Linked DNA regions of Homo sapiens. The protein of the gene in region 2 interacts with the protein of the main gene of each other region in a pairwise test. Each region holds a gene or a part of one and is shown on either strand. Other genes may lie near its edges.

The links.
Region 1: the proteins of TMEM254 (region 2) and TMEM79 interact in binary tests that used the Homo sapiens proteins (3 or more experiments, as listed by UniProt).
Region 3: the proteins of TMEM254 (region 2) and SAR1A interact in binary tests that used the Homo sapiens proteins (3 or more experiments, as listed by UniProt).
Region 4: the proteins of TMEM254 (region 2) and FKBP8 interact in binary tests that used the Homo sapiens proteins (3 or more experiments, as listed by UniProt).

Annotation. Positions count from the first base shown.
Region 1 is NC_000001.11:156,287,325-156,292,943, forward strand, and holds the end of TMEM79 (transmembrane protein 79), read left to right. Parts: intron 1-4,060; coding exon 4,061-4,274; 3' UTR 4,275-5,119; downstream 5,120-5,619.
Region 2 is NC_000010.11:80,088,622-80,093,078, reverse strand, and holds the end of TMEM254 (transmembrane protein 254), read right to left. Parts: intron 2,700-4,457; coding exon of another isoform or gene 2,667-2,699; exon of another isoform or gene 2,648-2,666; intron 2,283-2,647; coding exon 2,162-2,282; 3' UTR 528-2,161; downstream 1-527.
Region 3 is NC_000010.11:70,167,515-70,175,363, forward strand, and holds the start of SAR1A (small COPII coat GTPase SAR1A), read right to left. Parts: upstream 3,001-7,849; 5' UTR 2,899-3,000; intron 1-2,898. UniProt on the Homo sapiens protein: Small GTPase that cycles between an active GTP-bound and an inactive GDP-bound state and mainly functions in vesicle-mediated endoplasmic reticulum (ER) to Golgi transport.
Region 4 is NC_000019.10:18,533,522-18,540,591, forward strand, and holds part of FKBP8 (peptidyl-prolyl cis-trans isomerase FKBP8), read right to left. Parts: intron 6,200-7,070; coding exon 6,030-6,199; intron 5,939-6,029; coding exon 5,850-5,938; intron 4,916-5,849; coding exon 4,695-4,915; intron 4,253-4,694; coding exon 4,080-4,252; intron 1-4,079. UniProt on the Homo sapiens protein: Constitutively inactive PPiase, which becomes active when bound to calmodulin and calcium. Seems to act as a chaperone for BCL2, targets it to the mitochondria and modulates its phosphorylation state.

The DNA.
Region 1 (5,619 bases), on a different chromosome or scaffold from region 2:
AGAATCGCTTGAACCTGGGAGGCGGAGGTTGCAGTGAGCCAAGATCGCGCCATTGCACTCCAGCCTGGGTGACAGAGTGAGACTCCGTCTCAAACAAATAAATAAATAATTAAAATTAAAAAAATATAGAGATGAGGTCTCAAGGTTGGGGGGCCTGGTTGAGGGTACTGTCCTTCTCTTCCTGTTTGTCAATGAGGGGATGGCCCTGGTAGAGGGTACTGTCCTTTTCTTCATACAAACCAAGGATGTGTGAGCTCTCCTCGCAGCCTTCTTACTCTCCACTTTTTTTTTTTTTTTTTTTTTTTTTGAGACAGTGTTTCACTCTTGTTGCCCAGGCTGGAGAGTACAATGGCAGGATCTCAGCTCACTACAATCTCCACCTACTGGGTTCAAGCGATTCTCCTGCCTCAGCCTCCCGCGTAGCTGGGATTACAGGCGCCCACCACCAGGCCCAGCTAACTTTTTGTATTTTTAGTAGAGATAGGGTTTCACCATGTTGGCCAGGCAGTTCTTGAACCCCTAACCTCAGGTGATCTGCCCGCCTCAGCCTCCCAAAGTACTGGGATTACAGGCGTGAGCCACTGCGCCTGGCCCTTACTCTCCTTTCATTCAGACTTTGCCATCACCTAAAATCCTTAGGGGTACTTTGGGAGGCGGAGGCGGGCAGATCATGAGGTCAGGAGATTGAGACCATCCTGGCTAACACGGTGAAACCCCGTCTCTATTAAAAATACAAAAAAATTAGCCGGGTGCGGTGGCGAGCGCCTACAGTCCCAACTACTCGGGAGGCTGAGGCAGGAGAATGGCGTGAACCCGGGAGCCGAGATAGCGCCACTGCAGTCTGGCCTGGGTGAAAGAGTGAGACTCCGTCTCAAAAAAAAAAAAAAAAAAATCCTTAGGGGTATTTTCACATGAACTACTGTTAATCTAGAAGGCACCTTTGAATTTCTTAACCCAAATGCAGGTCTTTTCTTTCCATTTTCCCTAATACATATGCTCTTGTTACTTTTTTTTTCTTTTTTTTTTTTTGAGATGGTGTCTTACTCTGTTACCCAGGCTGGAGTGCAGTGGCGCAATCTTGGCTCACTACAACTTCTGTCTCCAGGCTCAAGCAGTTTTCCTGCCTCAGCCCCCCGAGTAGCTGAGATTACAGGTGTGAGCCACCATGCCCAGCTAATTTTTTTTGTATTTTTAGTAGAGACAGGGTTTCAACATGTTGGCCAGGCTGGTCTCGAACTTCTGACCTCAGATAATCCACCCATCTTGGCCACCCAAAGTGCTGGGATTACAGGCGTGAGCCACCACACCTGGCCTGCTCTTGTTACTTTTGATACAGGATTCCAGGTAGCTCGCTAAAATAAAATATTCTTCCTATTGAGCTAAAATTAGTCTTCCTGTCACTTCTGATTGTGGTCCAGCAGTCAGTTGTCCCACCAGCCTCCTGACCATCATGCAGCCTTGCATTTTCTCCCAATAGGTTTTCCCAAAATAAATATGTTCCTGCTCATGTAACTTAGCCTGCCATCTTAAACTCCTGGGGAATACTGGTTTCAGATAGAAGTTGGCTTAAGCAGTAAAAATCATCAGGGAGCTAAAGGAAGACTCAGTGATTGTCTGGTCCAGGCTTCCCATTTTACAAAGGGAAAATCACAACAGATTAGGGGAAGAGAGTTGCTCAGGTCAGTCGGCAATAGTGGCAGGACTAGAATCCAGGTCCTTTTCCTCTCTTATCCAGGGTCCTTTCTTCTTTACCATGGACAAGTTCATTAAGCAGTTTGTGCCTCAGTTTCATCATCTGTAAAATGAGGTCGTTATGAGGATTAAATGAGTTAATTCATGTAGAGTACTTAAAACAATCTAGTACTTGGTGCCAGGCGTGGTGGCTCACACCTGTAATCCCAGCACTTTGGGAGGCCAAGGCAGGTGGATCATGAGGTCAGGAGATCGAGACCATCCTGGCTAACACGGTAAAACCCCATCTCTAATAAAAATACAAAAAATTAGCCGGGTGTGGTGATGGGCGCCTGTAATCCCAGCACTTTGGGAGGCCAAGGCGGGTGGATCACCAGGTCAGGAGATCGAGACCATCCTGGCTAACACGGTGAAACCACGTCTCTACTAAAAATAAAAATAAAAAATTAGCCGGGCATGGTGGTGGGTACCTGTAGTCCCAGCTACTCAGGAGGCTGAGGCAGGAGAATGGCGTGAACCTGGGAGGCGGAGCTTGCAGTGAGCCGAGATTGGGCCACTGCACTCCAGCCTGGGCGACAGAGCGAGACTCTGTCTCAAAAAATAACAAGAACAACAAAAAAACAATCTGGTACTTGGTTCATTATACTATGCTGCTTCCTAGTGCAGAAGAGAAGCAGCAGTTACTCTTCCCTCCCTTTCACAGGTAAAAAAGAATAGAGGCACATGAATCATGTAATAAGTGGTCCTTCATATATTAAGAAGTGATCCTTCATATATTAAGAGGAAGTTGCTCTCCCCTCCCTCCATTGAGGGGTGTGTATTGAACATATCTTCCACGAAATCTGTGGCTGACCCATCCTCTGGGCTTCAAGCCCTCCTAGAGGTGGCTTCTTTGCTCTCCTCTTTACCTCTGCCCCTCAAATTGGCAGAAGGGAAGGTAATGAACAGGTTTGGGTTCATATCATGGCTTTGCTATTTCCCAGATGTGTGATCTTGGACCAGTCTTACTTAACCCTTGGAATCTTAGTTTCTTCATCTGCAAGAGGATAAATACAATGGAACACACTGCAGCTATAAAAGAATGAGAAAACCATTTTTATATTGATATAAAATGATCTCCAGGATATATTAAATGGGGGAAAAATAAACATGCAGAGACAGTCTATATAGTATGCTGCCATACTTCAGAAAAGGGAAAAATAACTTTTTGCTCATATATGCACTTTTTAAAAAATCACTCAATGTATTATCACACTGGCTCTTCTTCTTCCTTCTTCCTCCTTTCTTTCTTCTTCTTCTTCCTTCTTTCTTCTTTTCTTCTTTCTCCAAGAAAAGCACACTGGTCTTTAAGAAAAAAATAAAAGAAAAAAATCTGCTGGGCATGGTGGCTCACACCTGTAATCTCAGCACTTTGGGAGGCCAAGGCACTTTGGTAGGCTGTGGTGGGAGGACTGCCTGAGCTCAGGAGTTGGGGGCTGCCACTGCACTCCAGCCTGGCTGACAGAGACCCCATCTATAATTTAAAAAAAAAAAAAAATAGGCCAGGCGCGGTGGCTCACGCCTGTAATCCCAGCACTTTGGGAGGCCAAGGCAGGCGGATCATCAGGTCAGGAGATTGAGACCATCTCGGGTGAAACCCCATCTCTACTAAAAATACAAAAAAATAGCCAGGCATGGTGGCGGGCGCCCGTAGTCTCAGCTACTCAGGAGGCTGAGGCAGGAGAATTGCTTGAACCCGGGAGGCGGAGGTTGCAGTGAGCTGAGATCGCACCACTGCACTCCAGCCTGGGTGACAGAGAGAGACTCTGTCTCAAAAATAAAAAAATAATAATAATTTAAAAAATCACTCAGTGCACAAGAAACCATAATATTGATGCCTGGGGTGGGGGTGGGGGAGAATAGGGTGGGAATCGGTAAAGGGAGGAAGATATTTTACTATACTCATTGAATTTGCTCAAACATTTTAAAGTTTGTACAGCCAGGTGTGGTGGCCCGCATCTGTAATCCCAGCTACTCAGGAGTCTGAGGTGAGAGAATCACTCAAGGCCAGAAGTTTGAGCCCAGACTGGCAACATAGCAAGACCATGTCTCTAAAAAAATAAAAATAAATCGAAAAGTAAATAAAAGAGGGAAAGGAATAACATACTCAACTTCATAAAGATGTGGGGAAGTCAAATCAATCACTTATAGTAATTAGCGCTGTGCCTAATACATGTTAAGTGCATAAACTTTGGCTGTATTTGGAAGTACCAGCCATACCCACCAACTGCATCTGCCTCCCCTATCTACTCCCCCCACCGTCAGCCTATTGCCAATCAGCTGACGCGCTTCCCTCGAGAGTAGCCTGACCCTTTTCTTGCCCCCATAGGCTGATCTACTGGCTGACCTTTGCCGTGGGCCGCTCCTTCCGAGGCTTCGGCTACGGCCTGACGTTTCTGCCACTGCTGTCGATGCTGATGTGGAACCTCTACTACATGTTCGTGGTGGAGCCGGAGCGCATGCTCACTGCCACCGAGAGCCGCCTGGACTACCCGGACCACGCCCGCTCGGCCTCCGACTACAGGCCCCGCCCCTGGGGCTGAGCCTCTCCGCCCTCGCCCTCGGAGTAGGGGGTAGCGGCTTGGGTCTGACACATCTTTGAACCTTGTGGCCAGGCCTGGACTTCGCCCCCAGGCCTAGGACCGCGGTGGGTGGAACCCTGCTACTGCCCCAACAGGGACTCCAATCAATCGGAGTTCTCCCCTTGCCGGAGCTGCCCTTCACCTTTGGGGCCCGAGACAGTCATAAGGGATGGACTTAGTTTTCTTGCAGGGAAAAAGGTGGACAGCCGTGTTTCTTAAGGATGCTGAGGGCATGGGGCCAGGACCAGGGGAGAGGCACAGCTCCTTCCTGAGCAGCCTCTCACCACTGCCACAAGGCTCCCTAATGCTGGTCTCTGCTCCACTCCCCGGCTTCCCGTGAGGCAGGAGGCAGAGCCACAGCCAAGGCCCTGACCACTTCTGTGCCAGTTGTCTAAGCAGAGCGCCTCAGGGACGCTGGAAATGCCTTAAGGATAGAGGCTGGGCATCACATCAAATGGGACTGTGGTGTTTGGTGAAAACCTTCCTGAGGATCTGGATTCAGGACCCTCCATGACTGGCCTATTTACTGTTTACAGCTGGCCAGTGCAGAGCTGCTGCTCTTTTACCTTTTTAGGCCCCTGTAACTTCCCACCTTTAAACTGCCCAGAAGGCATGCCTCTCCCACAGGAAGAGGGGAGCAGACAGGGAAATCTGCCTACCAAGAGGGGTGTGTGTGTCTTTGTGCCCACACGTGGTGGCTGGGGAGTGCCTGGATGGTGCGGTGGTTGATGTTAACCTAGTGTGTGTGTGTGTGTGTGTGTGTGTGTGTGTGTGTGTGTGTGTGTAACAATAAATTACTACCAGTCTTTGCTGGCTCTTTTTTCCTGTTTGTCCCCCAGTCTCGAGTGTCCCTTCCCTGTTTAATTCAGATGACGATAGAAACCTCCCAGCTCTACCTGGTGGAGCAGGGCTGGCAGGTTCCTTGGTTCCACAGCAAGGAAATGGAGCCTCAAACAGAAACTTGCCTTCCAAGCCCATCTCTTAGCCCTTCCATTCCCTGGAACCAGCCCAAGACCAGCCCAACAACACTCACACATCAAGAGACTGGAGCCCTGTGAAAAAAAATAAATCTATTTTCTTGCCTTCCAGGGCAGCCAACCAGTCAGAATGCCTCTCATTTAGGCCTGCAAGTCCCATCCAAGGGAAATGTGTGGAGATGCAAGAAGGCAACACCAAGGGGACCTTATCAATAGCCCTGTCCCCTGCCCGCCTCCAAAGTCCCCCAACAAAGTATGAAGGAAGCCCCACCTGGGGGTCTCCAGGAAGTCGAGGCTGGCCTCTGAGGTTCCACAGAAAAGCAAGATGG
Region 2 (4,457 bases):
ACTACTCTACATGCTGTACAGGTTTGTAGCCTAGGGGCAACAGACTGTATCATATAAACTAGGTGTGTAGTCGGCTCTACCATTTGGTTTGTGAGTACACCCTATGATATCTGCACAACAATGCACTCACCTAATAGTGCATTTCTCAGAAGGCATCCCCATTGTTAAGTGATGCATACCGGACTTCATGCATTTAAAAAAATGCCAGAACACTCCTTACTTAGTGCATAGACTTTATCAAATGTTGAATAAAAACAGAAACAAAAAGGAGACAATCCTACAATGAAAAGGAGACACTCAGGTCCACCCTAGTGATTCCTTGTATGTGGAGGAGGTAAGTGGGACATGGACAGTTCTAAAATATAGTACGTATATACCCGACAACCACAGTGTTTTGCATTTCTTTATCAGTGAAAAACAAACTGATATCTGAAGTGTATAAACAGTTCCCTAGTAGTCTATTTGAGAAAAAGTATCAAATGTGCATCAATATGTTAAAACTGACAAATACAAGAAAAGCATTCAGCTAGAGAAAATTCACAGCATTTTATTCAAGTTAATCAATTTCATTCAATAATCTGCCATATTGTTCCCAGCACCACTATTACTGTTATTATTTCTCTTTGAGGAAGACCAGGTATTAAGAAATCTGGTTTGAATTTCCATGATGCCTAACTCTATGGTTAAAAATCCTTTTCCTTACCAAAAAGGAACTTCTTAATCACCAGAGAAACAGAGGGAAGACTGAGATATGTTTGCAGAAATTTATCTCTACCAGAGACAATTCATAGTTCATAATCTTTCAGGGTTGTGCTTTACTTGGGGGCTCCGTTTTCGGGAGCGGGTTGTTTCCCATAAATGTTTGCTTAATACAAATAATTTGCCCCACTGTACCACAGAAGGGAAATGAGGGCTAGTGTCCCCAGAAAGCAAGCAGGCAGTCCTCCAGGGAAGAAGCCCTAATGGCTCCTAGTGGTGACAGAGTCATTCTGCCTCCCCAGCCTGTGAGCAATAATAAAGTATAACTAAGTGAACAGGAGAGGTAATAACTAGCCAGATAACCCATGGGCTAGAATCTCTAAACAGAAATGCTTGTGTTTTGAATAAATCAGAGCTGGAAAGACACACTTTTGGAGAAGTGATTGAGAATAGAAAGGTATGAAAAAGATAAAGGTTTCTCACCAACGAAACCACAAAAAAGGTGGTACCAGTCAAAGGTAGACTTGGGCTTTTATTTTGGGGTGAGGGTACCCCAAATGGGTTGTGCCATTTTCACATAAAAATTGGAATGATAATGAACAAGTGAAAGTGAAATCAGTTTCCCTCCTTTGTTCAATAAACATGGTTAGAGCACCTGTGTGCAAGATAGTGGGACAGGTGCTGAGGGGAAAGGTAAAGCTGTTTAAGCTGTGGCCCTGAGCTGAAGGAGCAATCTAGCAGTGCCATCAGGCCCTGCACACTGCAGAGCACAGTGTCCCAGGGGCCAGGTGGAGGGAAGGATCACTTCCGGCTGCAGCATCAGGGAAGGCACTCTGCAGTCTCCCCTCCAGGTTCTCAGCGTGCCTCTATGCCTGTGTGACTGCTCAGCCTGCCCCATTCCAGGCACTTGCTCATCTTCCTTATCTTTCTCTGTAGCATGAGAAATGGAAGTTTGAGAGGATAGGATCCTACCTCACAGGTACCTAATAAATGTGTGTGGAATTGACATATAGTGGAAGTGTCACTTTATCTTAGTGCAGCAAGGTGGAAAGAGCTTTGGAAAGGAGAGGAAAGATGGTGGTTGTGAGGGTAAGGTGTTTTCATCAGAAGGCGGGAGCAAGGGTATACAAACCAAAAAGTCAGTTTAGTATGTGGCTTAGCTCAGAGCACACGAGGGTACCAACACAGCCAAAGACTGTAAGAAGGTAGCTGAAGTCCTCTGCCAAATAGGATTGAAAAGCTAAAATCTTTCTCTGTTTCTTTCTTAAGTAACAACTGGTCTATTCAAGCTCAACCAGAGCATATAAGAGAAAAAACTGACTAACGAGGGGGTCTTAAAGAGCTTTGAAGGACAGTTTCTAGAAAGTAGAAAGATCACTGAGTAAATTACTGCACCTCCTCTACCCCACAAAAAAAAGGGTGAGGATGAATGTAAAAGTGTAGAGCAAGCTTTCAGACAACTTCAAGTTTGTTTTTGGCGCTTCCGTTTGTAAGCAATCAAGATGGTGAGAGACGCTATCCCAAAGAAGAAAGTCTGTAGGAACCAGAGTAGCTGAGCCCGACCACTTGTGATGCCTTTATGCCTAAAACAGAAAAAACAAAATTTAAACACGAGATGTTAATCTTACAGTTTCATGGGAGTTATTGTCTTCTATATATATATTTTTTAAATTATACCTTCCACTACTTTCATTGGGTTTATTTTGCTGCTTTTCTCTGGCTTATCTTGGATGGTTCATTTATTTTTCATCTTTCTTGTTTTCTAACAAATGTATTTTGGATGGTAAACTATTCCCTGAGAACTAGTCTGGCTACTGTCTAGGGCACAGTATTATAAGACTGTTTCTCATGTGATTCTGATGAGCGGATGGAGTAAAAAGCACTGGTATGGTTTCAGAGCAAATGTTTTGCAAATAGACCAGATATAAATCCTAGCGTGGCTACCTACCAGCTGTGACCTGGGCAAATCACTCAGAATCTCTCAGAATCAGTTTTCTCATCTGAAAAACAGGAACAGCAGTAGCTATCTCACTGAGTCAGTTGAGATGATTTATGGGATAATACACACAACATGCTCAGGAAGGAGCCTGGCACACAGTCATGATAAACACCTGCTTATATTGTCATTCAAATTCAACTGCCTAAAATGAAGTGCAAAAAAAAGATGACCCAATGGAAGGGAATGGCTTGCTACAGTCTCATCTGTACATAAATAAGTCTCACTTGGATGACTTTTATTTAAAACAAACTTTAAAAACAATATATGTAAAAGCAATATAATTTTCTACAGTAACAGATTAAAACAGAAAGATCATATGAATATCTTAATAAATGCAGAAGTGGCATTTGACAAATTTCTTTTTTTTTTTTTTTTTGAGATGGAGTCTCGCTCTGTCACCCAGGCTGGAGTGCAGTGGCGCGATCTTGACTCACTGCAAGCTCTGCCTCCCGGGTTGATGCCATTCTCCTGCCTCAGCCTCCCGAGTAGCTGGGATTACAGGAGCCCGCCACCACGCCTGGCTAATTTTTTGTATTTCTTTAGTAGAGATGGGGTTTCACTGTGTTAGCCAGGATGGTCTCGATCTCTTGACCTCGTGATCCACCCACCTCGGCCTCCCAAAGTGCTGGTATTACAGGCGTGAGCCACCACGCCCGGCTGCATTTGACAAATTTCAACATCCATTCTTTTTCCAACCCCCCCAGAGATGGGGTCTCACTCTGTCACCTACAGTGGAGTGTACTGGTACAATTATAGCTCACTGCAGCCTCAAACTCCTGGGCTAAAGCTATCCTCCCACCTTAGCTTCCCAAGTAGCTGGGATCATCACAGGCACGCACCACCATGCCTGGCTAGGTTTTTTGTTTGTTTTTTGTAGAGACAGTGTCTTGCTTTGTTGCCCAGGCTGGTCTTGAACTCCTGGCTTCAACTGATTCTCCCACCTCAGCCTCCCGAAGTGCTGGGATTACAGGTGTGAGCCACCTGCATCCACATCCAACATCCATTTTTAATAAAACTTCTCAGCAAAGTTAGAAATACAATGGAACTTCCTAATTTTGACACAGGAGATCTACAAAACTCTATAATAAACATGATGCAAAATGTTGAAAGTTCTCCTTTGAGGTCAAGAACAAGGCACACTTCTAGTCAGCACTGCTGGAAGTTCTAGCTAGTAGAATAAGGGAAGAAACATAAATAAAAGGTATACAGAATTGAAAGAAAGAAATAAAACTGTATTTCTGGACAGTTTTATACCTAAAAACTGAAAATAATCTATAAACTGTTACAATTAATAAATTTATTTAGCAAGATTGCTGGGTATAAGGTCAATATAAAAAATTGACTATATTCATACAAAGTACCATCAGACAATTAGAAAATGAAATGAAACAAAGGGAGCCAAGATCATGCCACTGAACTCCAGTCTGGGCGACAGAGCTAGACTCCATCTCAAAAAACAAAAACAAAAACAACAACAAAAGTTGGCCAGGTGTGGTGGCTCAGGCCTGTAATTCCAGCACTTTGGGAGACCGACGCAGGTGGATCGCTTGAGCCCAGGAGTTTGACATCAGCCTTGGCAACATAATGATACCCTATCTTTTTTTTTTTTTTTTGAGACGGAGTCTTGCTCTGTCGCCCAGGCTGGAGTGCAGTGGCATGATCTCAGCTAACTGCAAGCTCCGGGGCCTCCCGGGTTCATGCCATTCTCCTGCCTCAGCCTCCTGGAGACCCTCCATCTTTTTTTAAAAAAAAGTCATTT
Region 3 (7,849 bases), 9.9 Mb from region 2:
AACGCTTGAACCTAGAAGGCAGAGGTTGCAGTGAGCGGAGATCGCTCCACTGCACTTCAGCCTGGGTGACAGAGCAGGACTCCATCTCAAAAAAAAAAAAAAAAGAGTAAATTGAAAAGTAGAGCTGGTATGTTTTTCATCCAATTACTGGGTTTTTATCAGGCCCATGGCCTAATCTGTAAATTTTAGGGCCTAATTAATATTTATTTTTCACGGCCCTTACCAAAGACAGCCAAATAAAGTTTGGCAGTTTGGGTGGATACATACTAGGCTCTTACGAAAAAATACTAAATGAGGTGATTTCTTTTTTGCCTTTTCAATAACAAATATATTTCAGCAGAAAGACTGCATTTATCACATTAACTAATAGTTTTCTCTGGAAATTGAGTCCGCACTTTAAGGAGTCCAACAACTTAAATATACTTAATAAAGCTCCTGTGCTGAAATTCCCATTTACTGTAAATAAGTAAAAGAACAATGTGCCCTTCCTCTGCAACTCCCTCAAACCAAACATCCTCCTATACTTTTCTCAATCTACTGCCTGGAGAAGCACAGCTCACCTTTAGAGCACACCCCTCATTAAGGTCATTCCCACTCAGATCATTTTGGAGGGAAGAATTAAAGCATCCAAGTAGCTAAATCCCGGCTGCTGCTGATTTGTATGCTCCAAGGGAGGAGATGGCTTAAAAGCAGGAGTGTCAAAGGAAAATAAAATGGAAAATTAAAGTAGTTCAATTGCCATGAAAAACTATTTAAAGTGTGGCATTTTCTCCTTTTCACCTTTGCAGAATTCATCTAGTTGAAAATACTTGGCTCATGCCTGTAATCCCAGCACTTTGGGAGGCCGAGGCAAGTGGATGACCTGAGGTCAGGAGTTCGAGATCAGCCTGGCCAACATGGTGAAACCCCATCTCTACTTAAAATACAAAAATTAGCTAGGCATGGTGGGCGCCTGTTATCCCAGCTACTCGGGAGGTTGAGGCAGGAGAATCACTTGAACCCGGGAGGCAGAGGTTGTAGTGAGCCGAGGTCATGACATTGCACTCCAGTCTGGACAACAAGAGCAAAAACTCCATCTCAAAAAAAAGAAAGAAAGAAAAATTTCTAAAGTGATGTAAACATTTTTTACAAGTCTGTAAAGTATTGACTGAAAACCAGTGTAGTACAAATGTATATAGAAGTGTTGGGTTGTAAAGGAGTGATGAGAGTGGAGGCTGACTGAAGAAACTCTTCAGGTGAGCTAAAAATAATAAAAACCCTTACTAGATCCAAAGAGTCGGGTTGCACTGCTACCCAAAGTTAAGAAAATGCCCCCGCCCCCCTTTTCTTAAGACAGACCAAGACTCTGTCTCCAAGGCTGAAGTGCAGTGTTGCCATCATGGCTCACTGCAGCCTCAACCTCCCAGGCTCAAGAGATCCTCCCACCTCAGCCTCCTCAGCAGCTGAAAATGGCCTTGGTGGCTCCTCTCTCCTTAAGATCTTAGGATTTGTACCAACTCATCAGTAGTTTTACAATCTGCACAGTACTTGTACATCTCATTTCATCCCCACACCAACCCTACCAGGCAAGGATCACTGGCCTCATTTAACAAGATAAAGATGAGGATACTCCTAGTTTTGCTGAGTCCTTTAAGACGGCTCAGTTGAAAAAGTAATAGTGCCAGGGCTTAAACCCTCATCTCTAACACCAAAGCCTAAGCTCTTCCTGTTAACAGTACATAAAATTCAAACCCAAACCACAAAATTGCTGGGGAAAAAAAAAAAAACTAAAACTTCTTTAACCCACCAACTACACAGAGGATGATCTTCCGAAGTTCTCTTCCTTACAACTCATCACATCTTTTGAATGGTATTTTAATAACTAGCATTCTATTTATTTTCTATTCTTGGTCCATTGTACCACCTTACGAGAAGTTAAGAGTAATCTAAAATTTAAGGTAGGTCTCTAAACTATCAACAAAACACTATTAATGTACCTAAAATGAAAACTTGCGAATTCCAGGGCTAAATGATTCAAACAAATGTTAATAGAAAAGGAGGGCACCAATCTGACCATTAGCCAATTTAAAAATTTACGCATTACTTGTTATACATAATCAGGGCAACTTTAAGACGCCATTCCAGGCAGATTTGGGGTAGTAGGCGGCTGGCTTTTAGCTAACTCTGCTTAGCTGCGGGGTAAATGTCAAAGGTCAGCCCCATGGCGAATCTCCCTAAGCCCCCTGTCGCAACCGAAGCCGATGGAATCAACAAGACAAAGATGCTCCTGACCCACTGGCTAGAATCGTGAAGAAAACGCTAATCCATGTCAAATGCACATAAGGAAATTTTTCCATGCAGAGACCAGACAGGGGAAAAGGGGAAGGGAGAAGGAGAAAATACAGGGTTCGACCCGGGCCATCGGAAGACAACCAAGCGCTGACTTGGGGGTAAGCCCTGGACTAGGGGCCTGTAGACCAGGTTCGAGCGCTCACACTCGCTAACTGCGGAGCCTTGGCCAGCCTCAGTCTCCGAGTCTACAAAACAAGGATAATCATAAAGGGCTCCCACCCGCCTCACCGAGGGCTGTGAGGCTCTTCCGAGACAGAGGACATGGAGCCATTTCGTAAACCGGAGCGCACGGTACAGACAAGAAACTGTTATCCGGCCCAGCAGCTGCGAGACCCCCGAGCGGAATGCAAGTGGACCCCAGGCAAAGAGGACAGCAGGGGACGGAGCAGATCTGGCCAAGTTGTCCCGTCCCCGCCCAGAATCAGCCCCGCGGCCCCACAGAACCGCCTGCGTGTCACTTCCCCCCCACCCAACCCCGCCAGGGCCAGCCTCCGCTCCGACCTCCCCGCCTTCCGTCCCAGCCCCTCGAGCCCCAACTCCCCTCCCCGACGCGACCCTCAGACTCACGGCCTGAGGGGCTCCTCCGGCAAAACAGCGGCTGGCTCGGACCCTCCCTCAGAGCACACTAACCAGCAGCACCCGGGACCGCCAGCTACTCGCCGGATGTACGTCACACCCCTCCCCGGGACTTCCGGGCGCGTAATGGGCCCCGCCCCCTCACAGCGTTACGCCTCTCTGCCCCGGTGCCGTCCCACCAGCGACTCGGGCCGCGGAGGGGCGGGCATAAGGCGTGACAAAGCGCGCTCGGGGTCTGGCCCCGCCTCGGCCCCGCCTGCTCCCGTCTGGCTAGCTGACCGCGCGAGACGTGGCAGCGCCGGAACCCTGGGTCCGGGGCTGGGTCCTGGAGTCCCTGAGCGGCCTGGTACACTCGGGATCGCGGCTTCCCATTCCAGACGCACCAGGAAAGTCAGAAGTGGGTACCGACGGTGACATAGGTCCTGGGAAAGATGAGTTGACCTTGGGGCCCTCCACTTGAGGTGGATCCCTCCAAGCTTTTGCTTTTTTTCTTCCTTGCTTTTTTTTTTTTTTTTTTTTTTTTTGAGGCGGAGTCTCACTTTGTCGCCCAGGCTGGAGTGCAGTGGCGCGATCTCGGCTCACTGCAACCTCCACCTCCCGGATTCAAGCGATTCTCATACCTCGGCCTCCCGAGTAGCTGGAACTACAGGCGCATGTCACCACACCTGGCTAATTTTTTTGTATTTTTACAGAGACAGGTTTCACCGTGTTGGCCAGGCTGGTCTCGAACTTCTGACCTCAAGTGATCCGCTGGCCTCGGCCTTCCAAAATGCTGGGATGAGAGGCGTGAGCCACCGCGCCCAGCTGCTTTTGCTTTGAGTCGCACTTCCTTGCCCTGGGGTGGCCTATGTTTTAGAAAAACAGAAAAACAGCTAATATTTATTGTGCACTTATGTTCCAGGCAGAGCACTGGGTACTTTGCACGCTTTGTCTAATTTCACCGTCATTGGAGTCCTGTGACTCCAGATGCTAGTATTATCCTTATTGACAAATGAGAGAGCAATGTTCAGAATAACCTACCATGCCCAAGTTCACACAGCTAAGTGGCAAAGCAACGTGTTCACCCCAGTATATTTCGCATGCATTTTCTCATTTAATTCTCAGGACAGTCCCACGAGATTGGTACTATTATTACTCTCATTTTACAAATAAAACAGTCTAATGGAAAGATGAATGACGTCTGTGGGTTCATGAAGATCTCAATTCTCCTTTAGTAAAATTTAAATTTAACATAATCCCAATAAAAGTACTAATAGGATTAATAGGTCGTGTGTGGTTTCGTTCTTTTTTTTTAATTACCCTATTTGTTCCTAAAATTCGTATAGAAAACCAAACAAAACTAGTCCAGAAACAGGCTTTCAAAATGAAGAACAAGGAGGTGGGAACTAACCCTGTTGGATATTAAAACATATTATAGAGCCTAAGTTATTAAAACTGGTGTGCGTGCACATGCACAAACACACACACACAAAAAACACAATGGAACAGAGCAAAGTACAGAAATGACTAAAGTACATGCAGAAATAAAACTAAAGTAGCACCTGGGACTCCAGCAATACTCAGGGAGCTGAGTGGGCAAGCTCACCACCCTCTACCCTCCGCTCATCCTGGGGTCTTAGATGTTGAATTTGAACCCTGTCCTGTCACAGAAAGGTGTCAGGCCACTTCTGAGGCTTCTCACCAGCTTTAGCTAAACCAGGGACAATGTGTCCATGGGGCTTGGAACCCCTTGTGCATCCTGGAGACACAGATGCAAGCCCAGTGCAAGCCAACACATTGGATTACTGGCTTTGTTGAGAGCCTGGCTGCACGAGGTGGAGGTGTCTGAACCACAGGATGGCTTGGGAGGCTGGGGAAGGAGGGAACATGCAGGCAGATTCTCAGAAAAGCCGCAAACTCTACTTACCTAAAGGCTTGAGCAAGTTGACGAATGCCCCAGACCACCATGTACCCACTGTAAAATGGGTGAAACAGGCATTGTTGTGCACATAGTTTTTCCAGAGTACTGTTTTCAATAAATGATTCTGTTATGTGTTGTTAAATAAATTAATAAATAATAAAAGGGGTTGAGACAATTGGGTAGTCAAAAAAACCTACAGGTTGAATCTCCAAAAGTTTATTACTCTAAACAAGTTTCAAGTGATGAAAAGATGTGTGTATTTTGAAATGACACTATAAAGGTACTAGAAAAACAGAAGAAAGCATGGATTCCTTATAATTTTGCAATGAGAAGACCTTTCTGGGTATGATTGAAAATCTAGACCGGGCGTGGTGACTCATGCCTGTAATCCCAGCGCTTTGGGAGGCTGAGACTGGCGAATCACAAGGTCAGGAGTTCGAGACCAGCCTGGCCAACATGGTAAAACCCCATCTCTACTACAAATACAAAAAATTAGCCAGGCGTAGTGGCAGGCGCCTGTAATCCCAGCTACTTGGGAGGCTGAGGCAGGCGAATCGCTTGAACCCCTGCGGCAGAGGTTGCAGTGAGCCGAGATCACACCACTGCACTCCAACCCCGGGCAACAGACTGAGACTCCATCTCAAAAAAAAAAAAAAAAAAGAAAGAAAAGAAAATGTAGATGCCATAAAAGAAAAGATTGACAAATTTAACTACATAAAAATTAAAAACTTATATGGCATAACAACAATCATGACACCATAAGCAAACTCAGACAAATGACAAGTTGAGAAAAATAATCACATCATAGGCAAGTAAGAAGTATGAAAAAGACTAACAACACAATAGGAAAATAGGCAACAGTTCAGAACAGATAATTCATAGGAAAGGAAATAAAAATGACTTTTCTTTTTTTTTTTTTTTTCTGAGACCTAGTCTCACTCTGTCACCCAGGCTGGAGTACAGTGGCGGTCTCGGCTCACTGCAACCTCTGCCTCCAGGATTCAAGCGATTCTCCTGCCTCAGCCTCCTGCATAGTTGGGATTACAGGCATGAGCCACCGAGCCCGGCTAATCTTTGTATTTTTAGTAGACATGGTCTTTGTATTTTTAGTAGAGATGAGGTCTCACCTTGTTGGCCAGGCTGGTCTCAAACTCCTAACCTCCAGTGATCCGCCCGCCTAGGCCTCCCAAAGTGCTGGGATTACAGGCATGAGCCACTGCGCCTGGCCCAAAAATGACTCAAGCATAATAAAATAGTAATAGAAATATAGATACTATAGAAAATATAAATATAGATATTATAGAATAATAGATATAGAAAATATATAAATCCATTTATTTGTCTATGTATCTCTGTATAGTTATATCTATACTGAAATAGAAATAGATTTTAAAAAATAAAAGATAAATTTGAAACTTACTGAGATACCATTTTCACCTGTCAGATTGGCAAAAGTTCACCAGTTTATTGGTGGGAAGGCTGTTTCAGATAGAGAAGTCAGACTGGGCATGGTGGCTTATGCCTGTAATCCCAACACTGGGAGACCGAGGCAGGAGGGTCGCTTGAGCCCAGGAGGTTGAGGGTACAGTGAGCCATGATTGCACTCCAGCCTAGGCAACAGAGCGAGACCTTGTCTCTAAATTAATTAATTAATTAACTAAATCAAATACAGAAGTCAAGAAAGGCCCCACCCAGGTGCTATTTGGATAAGAACATGAAGGACATTACATGGCTGTCAGGGTAGACTGTTCCAGGCTGACAGCAGAGGCCCTAAGGCAGGAGTGTGCCTGGCAGTTTCCAGGAACATCTGGGAGGCCAGTGTGACCAGGCAAGGTGAGCAACAGAAGGAGTGGTAGGAAATGGGGTGAGGTGTTTGTGGTCAGAACTGTGGAGGTTCTGGGGTTCTACCTAACTTGCAGGTTAACAGGTTAGCCTGACACAGTCTCAGATGCTGGCAGTCACAGGACTCCTGGATCAGAGACAAACTATGTTATTACTTCCGGCATAGCGAGCAGCATGAACTTCCTGTTTGTGTTACTTCCACTTGCCCCTTCCTCCCTCCTCCTTTCTGAGGACAATGGGGTGACACAGAGCAGTCTGAATGGACACTGCCCATTCGATGGTGTGCAACACAGCTGAGGAACCCAGAACTTAGGGAACCCAAATCTTTCATAATGGCTGCAAGCGGACCTGCCTGAACTCTGACCCAGTGGGAAATGGTATGACACTGGGCAGTATACAGACCTGTCCCCTGCACCAGAGGGACACTGTCTTCCAAGGCTGTTCATTATATAAATGTCCTTCAAAAGATAGTCCAAACAAAGGCAGCTGGCACCTCTGTTTGAAAGAAGTGCAAAAATCAAAGAGCTTCATGGAGAATTGTCTCTTAACAGGAGGCAAATCTTGAAAGCCTTGTAGGTGAGGACTTTAGCTTTTATTTTTGGTGACCTGAAGAACCAATGGAGGGTTTGAGGGGAGGCATCTTATGTAATTCTTCCCCCGACTGTATGCTTACTCCTTTACATATTCTCAGCATTAGATAGACAGGGTTATTCCCACCCTTGCCAGCATCTGCTTTCCCCCTTTTCTCTTTGAGTACCTCTTTCTCCCTTCTTTGCAGAGGCTTTTTAGGCTTTGGCTCTGGTGTGGAGGAGCAGTTTTAGTGATAACTTTGCAGATCTTCTCCGTGGTTTGTCCTTCACCTTGGCTTTAACTTCCTTAGCATCCCCTTCAGCCTTTTTCTTGGGCTTGATGCAGTGGAGGTGGGGAATACGCACTGCCTGCAAGGATGCAGCCAATACCAGCTTTGGTTTGTCCAGGAGTTGCTGTCACTTGTTCTTCATATTACTCTTTATTTTTCCTTTTTTTATCCTGCTTGATAAAAAATCTTTCTTATTTTTTAGAGGCAAATTCTTGCTATGTTTCCCAGGCTGGACTCAAACTCCTGGGGCTCAAATGATCGTCTTGCCTGGGCCTCCCCAAATGTTGAGATTATGGGCGTGAGCCACTATGCCCAGCTAGCTCTGGTTTTTGTTTTTGTTT
Region 4 (7,070 bases), on a different chromosome or scaffold from region 2:
GGAGAAACCCCGTCTCTACCAAAAAATACAAAAATTAGCCAGGCGTGGTGGCATGCACCTGTAGTCCTAGCTACTCAGGAGGCTGAGGTGGGAGGATTGCTTGAACCAGGGGGCAGAAGTTGCAGTGAGCCGAGATCACACCACTGCACCCCAGTCTGGGTGACAGAGTGCAACCCTGTCTTAAAAAAAGAAAAAAAAAAAAGGGTCGGGCGCAGTGGCTCATGCCTGTAATCCCAGCACTTTGGGAGGCCGAGGCGGGCGGATCACAAGGTCAGGAGATCAAGACCATCCTGGCTAAGACGGTGAAACCCTGTATCTACTAAAAATACAAAAAAAATTAGCTGGGCGAGGTGGCGGGCGCCTGATAGTCCCAGCTACTCGGGAGGCTGAGGCAGGAGAATGGCGTGAACCCGGGAGGCGGAGCTTGCAGTGAGCCGAGATCGTGCCACTGCACTCCAGCCTGGGCGACAGAGTGAGACTCCATCTCAAAAAAAAAAAAAAAGGCTGGGCGCGGTGGCTCACACCTGTAATCCCAGCACTTTGGGAGGTCAAGGCAGGCGGATCAAGAGGTCAGGACGTCAAGACCATCCTGGCTAACATGGTGAAACTCCGTCTCTACTAAAAAATACAAAAAAATTAGCCGGGCATGGTGGCGGGCGCCTGTAGTCCCAGCTACTCGGGAGGCTGAGGCAGGAGAATGGCGTGAACCCAGGAGGCAGCACTTGCAGTGAGCCGAGATCACGCCACTGCAGTCCAGCCTGGGCGACAGAGCGAGACTCCGTCTCAAAAACAAACAAACAAACAAAAAAAACAGCCAGGCTCCTGGCTACTCATACAAGTGCCAAATGGAGCTCTGGCAACATCCCTGGGTTCCAGCCACTCCCAAACTGCTCTCCTAGCCCTCAAACTCCATCAGTGCACACTTAGCTTGGCATTGGTCCCCGCAACATGCTCCTCCTTCCTGTCTCAGCTGCAGATCTAGGCACCCACCTCGCTGCCTCCTCCCTCACCACCTCCACTGGCGAGAGGCCGAATGGATGCTTCCAGAGGTTGTTGTTTTTTTTTTCTCTTTCCTTTAGAGACAGGGTCTTGATCGGTCACCCAGGCTGGAGTGCAATGGCATGATCATAGCTCACTGCAGCCTCAAACTCCTAGGCTCACACAATCCTCCAGCCTCAGCCTCCCGAGGAGCTGGGACTACAGGCGTGTACTACCATGTCCAACGAATTATTTATTTATGTATTTATTTATAAAATTATTATTACTATTGTTATTATTATTATTTTGAGATGGAGTCTCACTCTCGCCCAGGCTGGAGTGCAGTGGCACGATCTTGGCTCAATGCAAGCTCTGCCTCCCGGGTTCACGCCATTCTCCTGCCTCAGCCTCCCGAGTAACTGGGATTACAGGCACCTACCACCACCGGCTAATTTTTGTATTTTTAGTAGAGACAGGGTTTTACCATGTTGGCCAGGCTGGTCTCAAACTCCTGACCTCAAGTGATCCACCTGCCTCAGCCTCCCAAAGTGCTGGTATTACAGGCATGAGCCACCGCTCCAGGCCTACTTATTTATTTATTTTATTTTAGAGACAGGGCCATGTTCCCCAGGATGGTTTCGAACTCCTGGGCTCAACCAATCCACCTGCCTCGGTCTCCCAAAGTGCTGGGATTATAGGCGTGAGCCACCACGCCCAGCCCTTAATTATTTTTTAAATTTTTGTAGCAATGGGGTCTCACTATGCTGCCAAGACTGGTCTTGAATTCCTGGGCTCAAATGATCCTCCTACCTTGGCCTCCTGAAGTGCTGAGATTACAGGCGTGAGGCACCACACCTGGCCCTGATGTTTCCAAAGCTTTGGCCATAGTGAATGATTCAGGACCAGGCACATGACCCAAATGAGTCAATGAGATCCAGCCTGCACTATGCTGGTGCTGATGGGAGATGGGTTGCTAAGGGGAGAAGATGGAGCTGGGCGAAGTGGCTCACGCCTATAATCCCAGCACTTTGGGAGGTCAAGGCAGGTGGATCACTTGAGGTCAGGAGTTCAAGACCAGCCTGGCCAACATGGTGAAACCCCGTCTATACTAAAAATACAAAAAAAGGCTGGATGTGCTCGCTTGAACCCAGGAGGCAGAGGTTGCAGTGAGCCAAGATCGTGCCACTGCACTCCAGCCTGGGTGACAGAGCAAGACTCTGTCTCAAAAAAAAAAAAAAAAGGAGGGGGTAGAAGATGGAAATCTGTAACTTTCCAGGGGGGAGGGGGGAGCATCATGGTCACCCTGAGAGAGGAGCCGGCCCAGGAGGGAAGGTCAGAGCAGAGAAACAGCATCCCCACAATATTGTGAGTGCCTGGATCCAGCTATGCCTGAAGCCAGCTAATCCAAACTTGGCAGTTCCATGAGCTATCGATCCCTCCTTTCTGCTTGAACCTGTTTGAGTGGGTTTCTATCACCTTCAACCAGCAGGTCCAAACTTGTATGAAGCTACACAAGCAGCCACTCCTGCTGCCCCCAGGAGGATACTACCCCCAGGTTGAGAACAAAGCCTTCAAAAACAGGAACTGCATCTTCTCCCTCTTCATATTTCTCTGCAGAACTCCGCACACAGTATGTCCTTAATAAATCCCAGCTGGAGGGAGCCCCACCTCAGGCTTTTCAGAAACACAGCAGGTGAGCCAGTATCTGTGCCTCAGTTTCCTTCGTTAACTGCTAAAAGGTCCTGAAAGCCCCACCTAGGGGTGAGGCTGTGAGGATGAACAGAAAAGGGGGTGAGAATGAAGGTCAAGTCTGTGCAAGCCAGATTCACCCCTATGTTCTGCCAGAACTTTTTTTTCTGTTCTCGTGTTTTGTTTTTGACACAGGGTCTTGCTCTGCTGCCAAGGCTGGAGTGCAGTGGTGTGATCAAGGCTCACTGCAGCCTTGACCTTCGGGGCTCAAGCCATCCTCAGCCTCCTGAGCAACTGGGACGACAGGCCCGCGCCCCCACACCCAGCTAATTTTTGTATATTTTGGGTAGAGAAGGGGGTCTCCCTATGTTGCCTGGGCTCGTCGCAAATGTCTGGGCTCATGCGATCCTCCTGCCTTGGCCTCCTGTAATCCCAAGTGCTGGGATTACAGGAATGAGCCATTGTGCCTGGCCTCTGCCAGGACTTTTACTGAGCACCTACTATGTACCTGGCCCTGTTTGCAAGGCTGGAGATCCGGCAGTGAGCAAGACAGACCAAATCTCCACCTTTGAGTAAGGTAGATGGACAAGAGGCATGTCACCTCCACGTGCTGCCTGTCAGGAACATCTCAGACAGTCGGCAATGCCTACGCAAAGGCCCTGAGGTGGAGAGAGCCTGGCTAGACAGCAGAAAGGGAGAATGCCACGTGGGATGGAGAGAAGCAGAAAGTGAGGTGGGAGAAGTGATAGCAGGAGGGGGAAGACCAGACAACTCAAGGCCCCAAGGGCTGTGACTAGGATTCCACTTTACTCTGAGGAAAACTGGGACCCATGGAGGTTCTATGGGAGGAGGTTTCAACACTGGGCCAAGCCGGGCACGGTGGCTCAGGCCTGTAATCTCAGCACATGGGGAGACTGAGGCGGGCAGATCACTTGAGGTCAGGAGTTCGAGACCAGCCTGGCCAATATGGCTAACCACATCTCTACTAAAAATACAAAAATTAACTGGGTGTGGTGGCTCGCACCTGTAGTCCCAGCTACTTGGGAGGTTGAGGCAGGACAATCGCTTGAACCCAGGAGGAGGAGGTTGCGGTGGTGAGCTGAGATCACACCACTGCACTCCAGCCTGGGTGACAGAGTGAGACTCTGTCTCAAGAAACAAACAAACAAACAAACAAAAAACACTGGGCCAAAGGTTGGGGACCCAAGACTCGAGGATCAAATTCTGGCCTCAGCCAATGAATTGTTGTGACCAGGCCACACTCCTGCACCCGTCTGGGCCTCAGTTTCTCCACCTGCACCCCACAGAGCTCAGCTGGCTTATATACCTATGCCTTTCTCAAATGCAGGGTTGGGGACCACCCCGTATACCCCAGGCTGAGTGACCCGGCCTGGCACCCCGGTGTGGCCTACCTTGCCCTTGCGGAAGAGAGCCTTGATGTTGTCTGGCTGGTGCTCCAGCACAAGGCTGCAGGAGCGCAGGGCTGCGCGGTAGTGGTCGAGCTTCAGCTGCGAGGCCGCCAGGTTGTTCAGACACTTCACCTTCAACTGCAGGAGCTGTGCCTCCTCCTCGAACGTCATGTCCACTATTGGGAGACAGTGCCCGCCACGGCAGCCGTCACCATGCCACCAGACACCCCGGCACCCACCCCTCTGCGGAGGCTGCCTCTCTGGCCTCAGTTTCCCCAATTTTAACCCCGGACCAAGGGCCACGCTTTCCTGGGGCTCTCCTGAGGAAGCTACAAGATGGAGACTTAAGCAAGCGAGGGCCTAGCCTGTGGTACATGTGAACTGGCCCTGTCTATGGTCACCCCATCCCCATATCCACTTGCATTCTACAACACTCCACTGGTCTGGGATATACCACGAGTCTGTAACAGGCCCTAGCTTAGGGGCAGTTGGGGATCTACCCATATTCTGGGCTATTCTAGAATATTCTGAGTCTGAGGCTCTCTGGGGCTGGAAGTTTCTGGCACGGAGTGGACACCTTTGCAGGGGAGATGGTGGAGATCTGACCCAGGCGGTCACCTTTGGCGCTGGAGGTGATAGCCTTGATGGCGAGGTCGTAGGAGTTGGCGGCCAGGACGAAGTCCGCCCGCTGGTAGTGGGCGTTGCCGCACTCCCGCTTCCGGTTGGCCAGGGCCACGCGCTCCTGCCCCGTGAGCATCTCCAGGTCAGGCCCGTCCACAGCCGTCTTCAGGGTCACCTCCAGGCACAGGGCCGCGTGCGGGGGGATGTATGGGCTCCTGCTAGTTGGGTGGGAGCAGGCAGGGGCAGCACTCAGACCTGGTGACCCCTAAACCCGCTGGGCTGGCTAGGAAGGAGTGAGCTTGGCTCAAGCCCCCGATCTGTCTCCCCTCTGCCCTCCATCATTCCCTCCTCAGTAAAGTGCAGGGGAAGTGACTTGCCGCCTTGGAGCTGCGGGACTTGACGAACGAGTTCCCCTCCCTAAGCCTCGGTTTTCCTCCTTTTTATTAAGAGACAGGTTCTCACTCTGTTGCCCGGGCTGGAGTGCAGTGGTGCAATCTTGGCTCACTGCAGCCTCAAAAACGTGGGCTCAAGTGATCCTCCTGCCTGAGCCTCCTCAGTAGCTGGGACTACAGGTGTGCACCACACCCAGCTTTTTTTTTTTTTTTTTTTTTTTTTTGAGACAGTCTTGCTCTCTTGCCCAGGCTGGAGTGCAGTGGTGCAATCTCGGTTCACTGCAAGCTCCGCCTCCCGGGTTCACGCCATTTTCCTGCCTCAACCTCCAGAGTAGCTGGGACTACAGGCACCCACCACCACGCCTGGCTAATTTTTTGTATTTTTAGTAGAGACGGGGTTTCACCGTGCTAGCCAGGATGGCCTTGATCTCCTGACCTCATGATCCACCCGCCTTGGCCTCCCAAAGTGCTGGGATTACAGGCGTAAGCCACCACGCCCGGCCCACACCCAGCTAATTTTTAAATTTTTTTGTATAGAGATGCGGTCTATATTGCTTAGGCTGGTCTGGAACTCCAGGTCTCAAGCAATCCTCCTACCTCAACCTCCCAAAGTGCTGGGATTTCAGGTGTGAGCCACCTCACCCAGCCTCAGTTTCTTGTCTATAAAATGGGCAAGTAGATGGGGTGAGCCGAGGGGTACACCCACTCCACCCATCCCCCTCCTGAGACCTGCAGAGACCTAAGGGTGGCTGACTCTCACCTGCCTTGGGGGCCGTAGCAGTACTTGGAGTCAGCAGTGACCATGGCCGTCTCCCCCACGTCCATGAGTGGGACACTGAGATCCAGGGCCTGGGGTGTGTGGGGATAGCCAGCTGTCAGGCAGACTCAGACCCAGCAAGGCACGCCCCTCGCCCCTGCCCTGTCCCGCCCCAGCCCGCACCTGGATGACGTCACAGTCACCCAGAGTGAACACCAGCTCCGGCTCCTCCTGCACCCGTGTGCCATTCTCCAGCGACGTCTGCAGATGTACGGTGACCACCTGGCCCTTGACCGGGCGGCTCGAACCTGGCGGCCCTGGGACCAGCGTCTTCTTCCTCAACAGCCCGTTCCCTGCCAGGGTCCAGGGACATGCAGCCTGTCACCTGGCAGCTCAAACAGGCACCCGCTCCCCTGAGCCCCCACTCCTACCCTCAGCTCTGCCCACTAGCTGTCCAGAGGGGGCTGGCCCAACACTGGGGCACAAACCAAACTTCCAATGGCCACTCTGCCACCAGAGTGGGGAACCCCACGTGCAGGACACTGGGCAGGATGGGACAGACTTCAGGGTGACAGTGCTGGTGCTAGAGACCAGCTCAGTGAACAATGGTTGGTCTGGTTTTTTTGTTTTTTTGTTTTTTTTTTTTAAGAAAACTGAGACTTGCCGAGTTTCCATCTATTTGAGAGGCCAATGTGGGAGAATCACAAGTTCAGCCCAGCGTCTGGGCAAAATGGCAAGAACCCAGTCTCCCCACCCTCCTCAAAAAGAAAGAAAACCAAAGCTCAGAGAGGACAAACAGCCCTCAGGCTGAAATCCTTGCCCTGAGATGTTTGGGCCTCGGTTTACCCAGCCATGAAATGAGGTGCTCATGGGACCTTTGGTTAGCAGAGCCCCTGTGACACAGTGTCCCCACCACAGCACCAAGTGGGATGAATTTATAAGTTAAGCAAAGGACACACATGGTGGCTCATGCCTGTAATCCCAGAACTTTGGGAGGCTGAAATGAGAGGACTGTTTAAACCCAGGAGTTTGAGACCAGCCTGGGCAACATAGTGAGACCCCATCTCTACAAAAAATAAAAAATGACCAGGCATGGTGGCTCACACCTGTAACCCCAGCACTTTGGAAGGCTGAGGCAGGAGGATCACTTGAGGTTAGGAGTTTGAGACCAGCCTGGTCAACATGGTGAGACCCTGTCTCCACTAAAAATACAAAAATTAGGGG